Linked DNA regions of Homo sapiens: region 2 is linked to region 1. The links come from fine-mapping of genetic effects on gene expression. A gene starts in region 1. The other region holds a variant in brackets. All regions are shown on one strand. Distances are between the middles of the regions. Region 1 holds the start of FLNA (filamin A). Region 2 overlaps FLNA (filamin A).

Evidence for each region. PIP is the estimated chance that this variant, and not a neighbour inherited with it, causes the effect.
Region 2: its variant is the best candidate, but not a certain one, in a credible set for the expression of FLNA in whole blood (TOPMed, PIP 0.90).

The regions. Positions count from the first base shown.
Region 1 is chrX:154,372,602-154,377,965 of GRCh38, forward strand. It overlaps FLNA (filamin A), which reads right to left and starts at 2,033. Exons shown (of 48, transcript NM_001110556.2): 1 at 1,905-2,033. RefSeq lists silencers at 308-367, 1,910-1,969, 1,980-2,119 and an enhancer at 771-820.
Region 2 is chrX:154,344,950-154,350,258 of GRCh38, forward strand. It overlaps FLNA (filamin A), which reads right to left. Exons shown (of 48, transcript NM_001110556.2): 45 at 5,082-5,258; 46 at 4,700-4,918; 47 at 4,413-4,616; 48 at 3,582-4,087. The coding sequence ends at 3,900. Among named protein-coding and RNA genes, the nearest start is that of FLNA, 27 kb to the right of the region's middle. RefSeq lists enhancers at 2,545-2,684, 2,715-2,804. The variant G/A (reference allele first, on the strand shown) is at 2,505.

The DNA.
Region 1 (5,364 bases):
TGGGGACGCTCACTGCTACTATCTTCAGTCAGAAGCCAGCCTGCCTATGGCTTCCTCCCCATTGTGCACTCCCCTCCCTCTCAGTCCTCGGTACCTCCCCTCTCCAGAATGTTTCCTCCTCTGAGTGTTTTTTTTTTTTTTCTAGGAAGGCAGGTATCTGTCCCTCCTGTTCAATTCTAGTAATAATTAATTTATCTGCTAAAGACCAGTGAGAGATGGAGGCCCTGGGTTGGCCAGCACGTCATGCCCAAATATGGTTGACTCTCCTGTAGCCCTGGGTGTCTACATGACACGTGGTGGGGCTGTGATCCGCCCAGCACATTCACTTCGGGGCAGCCTGTGGCCCCACTGGTTTTTCCCACTAGTAGTGGTGTTAGGGGGTGCAAATGGCATTTTCCAGTACTGAGGCCAACCCCTGTATATTGTCCCCTCTCCTGACCACTTTGAGACACACCTGCACCAAGTGCGCCTGGGCGTCTGGGAGCTGGGGTGGAGGTGGGAGGGAGGGCTGGGAAGGGGGAACCCATACAGACCCCTCCCTGCACGGGCCCCATTCAAGACGGGCTTGAAGTTGTCCTTCTGGTCCCCCTGCCCCACTGGAAAGCAAGTTCCCAGGCACGGAATTCCATCAATAATTGACTCTCTCTCCACTAAGGGCCATTGAGCTGGGTTGTCTGGGTTCATTCCTTAATCTTCAGAGCTCAGGGAAACTGAGTCAGAGTGACCAGTGGTCAATTCCAGCAGAAAGAGTGTCAGGAGGTGGGTGCCGTGTCTTCCAGCCCTAGCTTTTCCCTATTTAGAGGAAACAAGGAATGGGCGTGTAGAGGGTTCTTGTCCCTAGAACATAGTATCAACCGCCAGATGTCGCCCGATCCCAAAGCCACCAGATCGGGCAGTCCTGGGAAGCCAAAATCCAGCTCTTTCATATTTTCCCTTATTTGGAGTAGATTCTTGGATGTTAGGCACACCCCGCCCACCACACCACCCCTGGCCCTCAGACCCCAGGCCAGACCCTCCCACTGGGAGGTATAGCCCAAGCCCAGGAGCTGTTCAGCTGGGATCCCTAAGGAGCTGTTTCCAGGCCTGCGTAGCCAGGGGGCGCAGGAGGGAAGGAAGCCGCAGACTGGCAAGGTGAGAAGAGACCTGTGCTGGCAAGTCCAGGTGCGGCAGGTGAGGTCGCCCATTCCCAAGCTCCCACCTTGACGGTGCACTCGGAGCACTTACAAATGGGTCTGCCAGTGGATTTTAACCTATTTTGCCTGGCCCCAGGTGGCACGGGAATCTGGGGACATTGTTGGTTATATCCTGGCTGGCAGTGCGCATCCAACTCAGAGCCAACCTGGCATAGGGCCCAGGGCCCAACCAAGGAACCTGGCCTGGTCTCATCCTCACCATGGCCCCCATGGAGTAGAGCAGCCCCAGAACCAGCTCCCCTGTGCCCAAAGCAGCTGGTGCCCTGTGGACTCGAGCCAGCAAGGGACACGCTGTCCCCCTCCCAGTGGGCACACTGGCTGAGAAGTGTCCTTCCAGGTGGCCACTCGCCCTGAGTCCACACAAGTTCCTGGTGTCAGGGCCCTTCTCTCTCAGGCATGCAGTGGTCCGTTCATGGGCAAGTGCCCAGACACCCTCTCTCTCTCGGGGACCCCCCATGGCCTCAGGCTCCCACATTCGTGGGCACAGACATGGCTCGTGGGTCAACTAGGGAAGCTATTCTCTGGACACTCACTCCCAGATGCCAGGGGAGCCTCCATCGGCTCACGCATCCCAGCTGAACCTGGCCCGGACCTGGGCGCGAGCTGGCGCCTGCGTTTTCCGGCCTCTCTGCCCGCCTTCTCCAACCCCGCCCCCGGCCGACGAGGAGCGCGGCGACCCTACGGCGCGAAGCCGGGCCGCGGAGACCTCACCTGCTGTTCCTGAGAGCGACCGGTGACCGATGACCGCGGGGTGGCGCCCGGATCGCCTTCGCGCCCGCGCCCGCGCCAGGCGCCTCGGGGATTCTGTCGGCGTCCGCTGCGCGCGACGCGCCTCCACGCGAATGGGCCGCCGCCGCCCGCCTTCTTGTTGGCCGCACCCCCGCCCCGCGCCCGCCCCGCGCCCGGCCCGGCCCGGCGAGAAAGCCTTAATTGGTAAAATTGCCCAGGAGCCCGGGACGGGTGCGTGGGGGGCGGGGGTGCGGGGGCACGCCGTGAGCTCCAGCGACCCGCCGCCGGGCGACGCCGCCCCCCGAGATGAGCTCACCGCCGGCGAGGGCCGCCAGGCCCTGGGGGAGGGAGGGCTTCGTGGGGGAGTCGCCTCCAGCGCCCACAGGGACTGCAGGGCTCGTGTCTAGGCCCAATCACAAGGATCCTGCGTGTCTGAGTCTGGGGGAGCCAAGCGCACCCCAGGTGGAAAGGCCGAGGCCCAAGGCCACCTTCTCCAAGGAGCCACCCACAGTCACAGCCCCTGGTGTCTGTCCCAAGCCGGGATTGTTTCCTGGGGTGGGGGCAACAGGTCGTTGCAGGTGTTGGCTGGGCGCCTACGTCAGGCAGGGCCCCGGGACGGGACTGCAGGGCTCCGAGCCCTGGGATGAACCTGACTGCCATGGATCAGGCGCTGCCAGGTCTGGCCTGGGGTGGGCAGCAGAAACAGGATCGCTCAGGGGGACGAGAAAGTTAAGTTTGTTTAGTATTAAGAAGATTCTGATCTTAAAGAAAACATTGGCCGGGCATGGTGGCTCATGCCTATAATCCTAGCACTGTGGGAAGCTGAGGCAGGTGGATTAATTGAGCCCGGGAGTTTGAGACCAACCTGGGCAACACAGCAAGACACTATCTCTACCAAAAATATAAAAATTAGCTGGGCGTGGTGACGTGCACCGGTAGTCTCAGCTGCTCAGGAGACAGATGGGAGGATCGTTTAAGCCCGGGAGTTTGAGGCTGCAGTGAGCTATAATTTCACCACTACACTCCAGCCTGGGTCACACAGTGAAACCCTGTCACTAAACATAAAAAAAAAGGCCAGGTGCGGTGGTTCATGCCTGTAATCCCAGCACTTTGGGAGGCCGAAGTGGGTGGATCACGAGGTCAGGAGTTCAAGAACAGCCTGGCCAAGATGGTGAAACCCCGTCTCTACTAAAAATATAAAAACTAGCCGGGCGCAGTGGCAGGCGCCTGTAATCCCAGCTACTCGGGAGGCTGAGGCGGGAAAATCGCGTGAACCCGGGCGGCAGAGGTTGCAGTGAGCCGAGATCACGTCACTGCACTCCAACCTGGGTGATAGAGACTCCGTCTCAAAAAAAAAAAAAAAAAAAAAAAAAAAGGCCGGGCGTGGTGGATCCCAGCACTTTGGGAGGCTGAGGCAGGTGGATCACGAGGTCAGGAGTTTGAGACCAGCCTGGTCAACACAGTGAAACCCGGTCTCTACTAAAAATACAAAAATTAGCTGGGCGTGGTGGCAGGCGCCTGTAATCCCAGCTACTCGGGAGGCTGAGACAGGAGAATCGCGTGAACCTGGGAGGCGGAGGTTGCAGTGAGCTGAGATTGCGCCACTGCACTCCAGCCTGGGTGATAGAGCTAGACTGTGTCTTGGAAAAAAATAATAAATATAAAAATAAAAATACAAATAAAAAAATAACGTTAACAGCTCAGTGAACAATCATCTACTTGTCATAGACACTGAGGAATGTTTCCATGTTGATATTTTTTCCTCGTAACTCAATCATGTTGGGATTGTAAGTTATACAGCATATACTGCTTGCAAGCCATTCCATCCTTAAGGAGCAACTCAGTTTTCTTATTCTTGACTTAGAATTGGTTGCATCCCGATGTCTCCTCTGCCTGCACTTCCCAGGAAGAACCCCCTGAGGCCCTCAGATTTTCCTGCACACGCCCTTCCCAGACCCTCTGATGACTGCAAATCCCACCCTACCCTTGACGGGAAACTCTCTGAGGCTGTCCAGGTCATCACCCCCAGGGACCAGGTACTGGTGGGGGAATGTTCCATGAATTAATTGCTGTACTCAGGGCTCTTGGACAAGTCTCCCCTGATCGCAGGGTCCTGACTCTCCCTGTATAAGATGGAGGCTCTGCTGCTCAGGAGCCTGCCTGGCTTCCAGTGGTCTGGAGTGGAGCTGCACTGCAATGGGGCTGGACTTAGGCTCCAGGTACCCACAGGGTGGGTGCAGGGGGACCATCACAGTTCAGCTTCCTGGTGCCATCTGTGGTGGGACCTGATTGTGGGGCAAAGGGGTGGGACATAAAAGGCAGAGTGTCGAGGCAGGTACAGAACGGGTGGGGGGTGCTCCTTAGGGAGAAGGCAAATCTAGAATTCCTTGACCTCATAAGGAAACAGCTTGGATCCGTATGGGGAGGGGTGGCATGGGGGAGGATGGAGCAGCACTTAGTACACAGAGGCCTCTGGGAGAGGGGCCAGGATTGCAGAAGGCTTGCAGAGGTGCTGGGGAATCTGATTTTGTCAAAACTAAAAAATCCACAAGGCAGCCTCTGAGCAGCCCAGAGTCCAAACTGCCATCTGTCCCCTCAGCTCTGAAAGATGAGGTGCAAACCCCTGCCCTACCCAAGGCTCTCCTGCTGCACACTGCCAGGCACTGTCTTCATGGACCCACACTTCCTTCCATATTGCTGGGGACACAGTGGGGCCTTGCCAACAGTGATTCCTCTTTGTTAGGATCTTTGCGTGTAGTCAAAACAGGGCCCCATCTCCTCATTACTCCCCCAGGTGTCTACCTCTTCCCACCCCATGGGCAAACCTCCATGGATGACTGGTCTGTGACCCTCACCAGCCAGGCCAGCCATTCTGGACATGACCAGAGCCCTCCCCTCTTCTTCCCTTGTCACCAGCCCTCAACTGTGAAACTACAGATGGCATGTCACCTCTTCATGCTCCCAGTTTGGGGCCTACCCAGTGAGGGGCACACTAGTTGATTCCATACACCCTCAGCTGGCTTTGTTTAGAATGTGAATGTCACAGCCAGGCGCGGTGGCTTATGCCTGTAATCCCAGCACTTTGGGAGGCCGAGCCGGACTGATCACTTGAGGTCAGGAGTTCGAGACCAGCCTGGCCAACATGGTGAAATCCTGTTTCTACTAAAAATACAAATACTAAATACTAAAAATACAAAGCCAGGCATGGTGGCATGTGACTGTACTCCCAGCTACTCGGGAGGCTGAGACAGGAGAATCACTTGAACCCGGGAGGTGGAGGCTACAGAGAGCCAAGATTGCACCACTGCACTCCAGCCTGGGTGACAGAGCGAGACTGTCTCAAAAAAAAAAAAAAAAAAAAAAGAATATGAATGATGAATGTCACCTCCTTTCTCTTCTCCATGAGACAGCCAATATCTGATCAAGGCCCTGGGAATGGGAA
Region 2 (5,309 bases), 28 kb before region 1:
AGGACACGGTCAGGCCCACCGACCCCCCACACTCCTGGGCCACCTGCCTGCTGGCTGTCCTCTGTGACCCTCTCTCCCCTGAGCCGAGGTGCCGGCCCGATCCCGCGGGAAGAACAGCGAGGAGGGCCGGCTCTCCCTGCTATGGGGGCCTCGGGGGCCTGGACGGGGACTGTGTCCTCCCTCCCCGGGCTGCCCGGCGCCCTCGCTCAGGGAGTGCTCTCCTAGCGACCTGTTCGGCAGATGGGCACAGCCACGACAGCAGCCAGACCCTGTCCCGGCCCATGCACCCACCTGGACGGATCGGCGCCCTCCTGGACTTACTGGCTCCATTGAGGGTCCCAAAGGAGCTGCCCCAGAGCACCCTAGGGGCGTCCGGACCCCTCGGCCCGCAGCAGCTACCAGCAGCCCAGGCAGGACCCAGGGGCTTCCGGGCACAGAGGCGCCGCTCCCTGGCTCGTGAGCCCAGGGCCTCTCCAGCCGTCCCCTGTTGGGGGCCTCCACTCCTGCTCTGGATCAAGGTCCTGCCCCTAGGGAGAGCTGGTGCCTTCGGGGGAGCGGGCCCTGGTTGCAGTTGGAGAGTGGGTCCAGGGATGGTGTTCTGCTTGGCTGCCGCCCTGCCTCCTGGGGGCCTCCCCAGATCCCCCCCGGCTGCTGTCAGCTGGGGCTGAGGGGTCCTGTGGCCTAGGGGGCATCCTGGTTCGGGAGTGCCCTGCCCTGGACACCGTGTCCAGGAAGGATACATGCTCACCCTTTGTTGGGGGCCAGGCACAGGGTGAGGGGGCACTCGGCCCCACCACCCGTGTCTCTGGGAACCCTGGCTGGGTACGGCCCCTCTTCCGAGAGATCCTGCCCGGGACTGGTGCCGCCTGCCTCGGGCCTGCCCCCCACACAGTTGGGGACCCTGGCGGGGCACCTCCTGCCAGCCACCTGCTGCTGTCCTAGCCTCAGCCGGGCCCTGCAAGCTGTCCATGTGCCTGGGACACCCGGTCCCTCTGCAAATGTTTGCAAACACCCCTGCCCCCACAGGCATGTCTGGGGGCCTCTCTGGGCCTTTGTGTGCCGAGTTGGGCGTGGGTGGCGGCGGGGGTCTTTCCATAGTCACCTACTTCCTGTCCTCCTCGGCCCCAGGTCCAGCGGTGCCCTGTCTGCTCGGTTTCCAGCCTGAGCCCTTTCCTGAGCTGGCCCGGTCCCCTAAGCTTCTGCAGCAGGTTCCCAGGTCCACCCCGAGGGACTCCTGGCCAGTGTTCCCAACAGTGTCTGAGTGCTGGCCTCAGTCCCTGGCCATGGATTTTGGGGAACCCCGCTCTGAGGGGCCGTTGCTTCCCTTTCCTCTCCAGGTCCCCTCCCAGTTTCCTCGGAGAGCGGGGATGGGGCTGTTGGGAGGCGGAAGGGAGGGTTGGGGTGCAGAGGTGTGGCTTGGGGGAGGGAAGGTCAACTGGGCTACCGCCCCTCCCTGCCCTCCCTGGACTCAGTCCAGACACAACCTGCGGGTTGGAGGCCTGTGCACCCTTTATCTCCTCCTAGTAGCCTGGCGGGTCCTCCTGGGTCTTCCTCAGTGTGTGTGAGTCCCCAGGCCATAGGACCCGGCAGGGTGGGGGCCCGTGCTCTGCTCTTGTTTTTGCTCCTACTTGCCCGCCCTTCCCGGGGGGGGCCCTGGCCAGGACCGTGCCAGTCTCTTTCCCTGCTGCCTGCCTGCCTGCCTGGGTGGCCTCCAGCTCACCACCCTGTGAGGCCTGTGGCCTCCCGCCAGGGCTGTCCTCAGGGGCCCGGATCCCCCTAGTTTATCTTCTGCCCTTGCCGCCCCACATGTGTCCCTCCCTGCAGCCTGGGGACGATCGGCAGGTTTGGGGGACCGGTGCCCTTGGTTCACCTAGCCCAGCCCTAGGGCGGTGGCCCTGCCAGGCATGGGGCTTGAGAGGGGATGTGATGGAGCAGACACAGGGAGGGGGCAGGAGACCCTGGGTGACTCGGGACAGGAGGGAGTGCCCCAGAGGTTCAGAATCCTGGGCACACAGTGGGCTGAGCGGACAAGTCGCAGCCTCAGGGGGACCTCCCGTCCTCCCAACTGGCACTGCATCTTTCTGGGCCTGGCTCTGCTGCCTCACAGCCCCGTTCAGCTGGTGGCTTTTAGAGGCTTCCAGAGTGTGCTTGGCCCCTTTACCTCTATGCCATTGGGCCCAGGGGGAGCAGTAGAGTGGCTGCGGCTGGGGGTGGGACTTCCCCTTTCTGTGTCTTGCTTGCCCCGTGTCTCCCAGTGAGTGGCCGCCCTGAGCCTGGGGCCAGCAGCCCAGCCCCAGTGAGAAATAAAAGTAGCCATCCTGCCTGAACTGCCGCTGCCTTTTCTACTTTGCCCTCTCAACAGGGGTCAAGGAGGGTACGCGTGGTGTTGAGGTCTCAGAAGGTCTGGGTTTGACGTGTGCCATGGCTGCAGGCTACGGCCTGGTCGTGTCAGACGCTGTGGAGCTGAGGGAGGATGTGGCGAGAAAGCTGAGCGTTGCCCCCGA[G/A]AGCCTTGCTTCCTGGCCCTTGTCTGCAGATGTCTGAGGTGGTGGTGTCCTTGTCAGGGGTTTGATCGAGGGCCAAAGCCTTTGGCCCAGGGAGCAGGCAGCTTTGGGTGCTGCAGTTGGGATGTCCCGATAGCATGCAGGCAGCACCAGGAGCCAGGACGACTTGGGATGTTATGTGTTTGGGGGCAATCTTTACAGTGGGAGACACATAGGTTGGTGTGGGAATCCACGGCAGGGGTACCAATGAGGGGATATTCAGCAGGGGGCCCAGGGTACCTGGGATTGGCACCTTGAATGCATCCACCTCCTGCCACCTGTTAACTAAAGGGCCCTGAGGCCCAGAGCCTGGGGGAGGGGGCCTCATCCCAGTCCCTTGTTTGGGGGAATGGTGGCATGGTGGCATGTTCAAGTTACCTGGCAGATGGCCAGGGCCTGCTGTGATTTTTTTTTTTTTTTTTTTTTGAGACAGAGTCTCGCTCTGTCGCCCAGGCTGGAGGGCAGTGGCGCGATCTCGGCTCACTGCAAGCTCTGTCTCCTGGGTTCGCACCATTCTCCTGCCTCAGCCTCCCGAGTAGCTGGGACTACAGGCGCCCGCCACCACACCTGGCTAATTTTTTGTATTTTTAGTAGAGACGGGGTTTCACCGTGTTAGCCAGGATGGTCTTGATCTCCTGACCTTGTGATCTGCCTGCCTCGGCCTCCCGAAGTGCTGGGATTACAGGCGTGAGCCACCACACCCGGCCGGGCCTGCTGTTGATTATCTGGCCACCTCCACCAGGGAGCCTTCCTGACACCACCCTACCCAGTAATGGGCTCTCCTGCCCAGCTCTTTGCCTCCTTGCTGCCTGGGCTCCATTCCAGGTTGCTACATGTTCCTCTCCTTACGTTGGCTTGAACTCAGGGAGGCAGAGGAAGCAAAGATAGATGGTGCCTTCTGGAGTCAGGGTGGGGTGAAGCAGGAGCCCTGGAGGGAGGTGACCTGTGCTCAGCCCATGCTTTGATCTGCTCATTGGCACCCCTGTCAGGTTGGCCTTGACTGGTCCCCCAACCCCAACAAAGCTACAGCCACGCAAAGGAGAATGGAAGCAAAACTTTATTCCTCTTGGCTGGAGAAGAGAACTAGTGGGTGGTTGTGTACAGGACCCCCATCCCTCACCCCTCCCAGAACCAAAGAAGACAAGCAGCGCCACCAAATGGCTCCCTCTGCCCAAGTGAAAGCCGAGAGGTCAGCGGCTGGCTGGGGAGGCAGGTGAGCGCAGCACGGCACAGGGCAGGGGCGGCTGCAGTGACAGGCGGGCGGCCAGGGCGGCCTGGGCCGGGGTTGAGGGGAAGAGGGCGGGGCTGCTTGGGTAGCGGGGCAGGCTTGGGGGCTGCCGGCTGGCACGGGCCCCAGACTCAGGGCACCACAACGCGGTAGGGGCTGCCTGGGATGTGCTCGTCCCCCCATTTGACCACCAGTGTGTACTCCCCCTTGTCCTTGAGCAGGTAGGACACGCTGTAGAGCCGGCTGCCCACGTGCTTCACCAGGATCTCCTCGCAGGGGGTCCTTGGGCCATGAACCCCCACCAGCAGCATGTTGTTGCCTGAGGCAAGAGGGGTCCTCAGTCCCAGGTCCCAGCCCCCTTCCTCCCGCTGGTGTCCTGCTCTCCTCTCCTGTCCCTAAGCCAGTTCTGGGGTGACAGTTCTCTCTTCCTAAAGAGCTGCCAGCACCTCCCCAACCCAGGCCAGCTTAGCAGATTCCAGCTCCTCCCTGGTCTTTGTTTGAGGGGTCCAGGAGGTGGCAGGGAGGTGGCTCTAGAAGTGAAAGCCACGCCCCAAAGGCGGTCCCTGCTCTCCCAGACACTGGCCATCCTGTGATTTCTGGCCTCATTTTGGTGGGAAGGTGGGCCGGGGGCCCAGGTTGCCCACCTGCTTTGCTGCAGTCTACTGTGAAGCTGCTCTTCTGGCCTACGTAGGCCTTGCTCAGCCCCAGGCCCTTGGCCACCACCTTGCTGGCGTCAGCAGGCCCAGGACCCGGGGCCCCATGCTGGGGGGCACAGGTGGCCTTGGTCAGAGAGTCTACAAACACTGATGATGTCTCGTGGAGGCTGTGGTTGCTGACGAGACGGGGGCCTGCAAGGCAGAGTGGGTGGGGCTAAGAGGTGGCTGTGGTGCCGGGCGTTGGGCAGATGCCAATAGCTTGGCCCCAGGCTCACCTGTGACTTTGGCCTTGAAGGGGCTGCCCCCAATGTGGTAGGGGCCGCCGTACTTGATGGAGATGAGGTAGCTGCCAGGTGCCATGGGGGTATAGGTGACGCGGTAGCCCTCAGGGCACTCCTGGCAATCCATCTTCACCTTGGAGGGGCCGTCAATGGTCACCGACAGGGCACCAGCTCCCGCATTGCTCGTGTTCACGACGAACTCAGCTGGGTTCCCTGGGAGCACAGGAGGTCAGGCAGAGCCAGACTGGCCTGCCTCCCTGTCCTCGGCCACCCAGCACAGGCTTGTCACCTCCAGGTGCCTCCTGTTGTCACCAAGAGCTTGGAGGCAAGGGCCTAGCAGCTGTGTGCACACGTGCAGCCGCACCGACAGACTTACCTGTGACACCGCCTTCCAGACCTGCTCCGTAAGCAGACACCAAGCCTGGGTCCCCTCCATGCCCAGGCTCCCCAACTCGGATCTTGAAGGGGCTTCCAGGGATGTGGGTGCCGTTGAACTTGACGTCAATCAGGTAAACGCCATTCTCCCGAGGGATGAAGCGCACAGCATACTTATCTGAGGAGCAGGGAGTCATGCTGTGGGCCTGGGGCCCCTCCTCAAACCAGC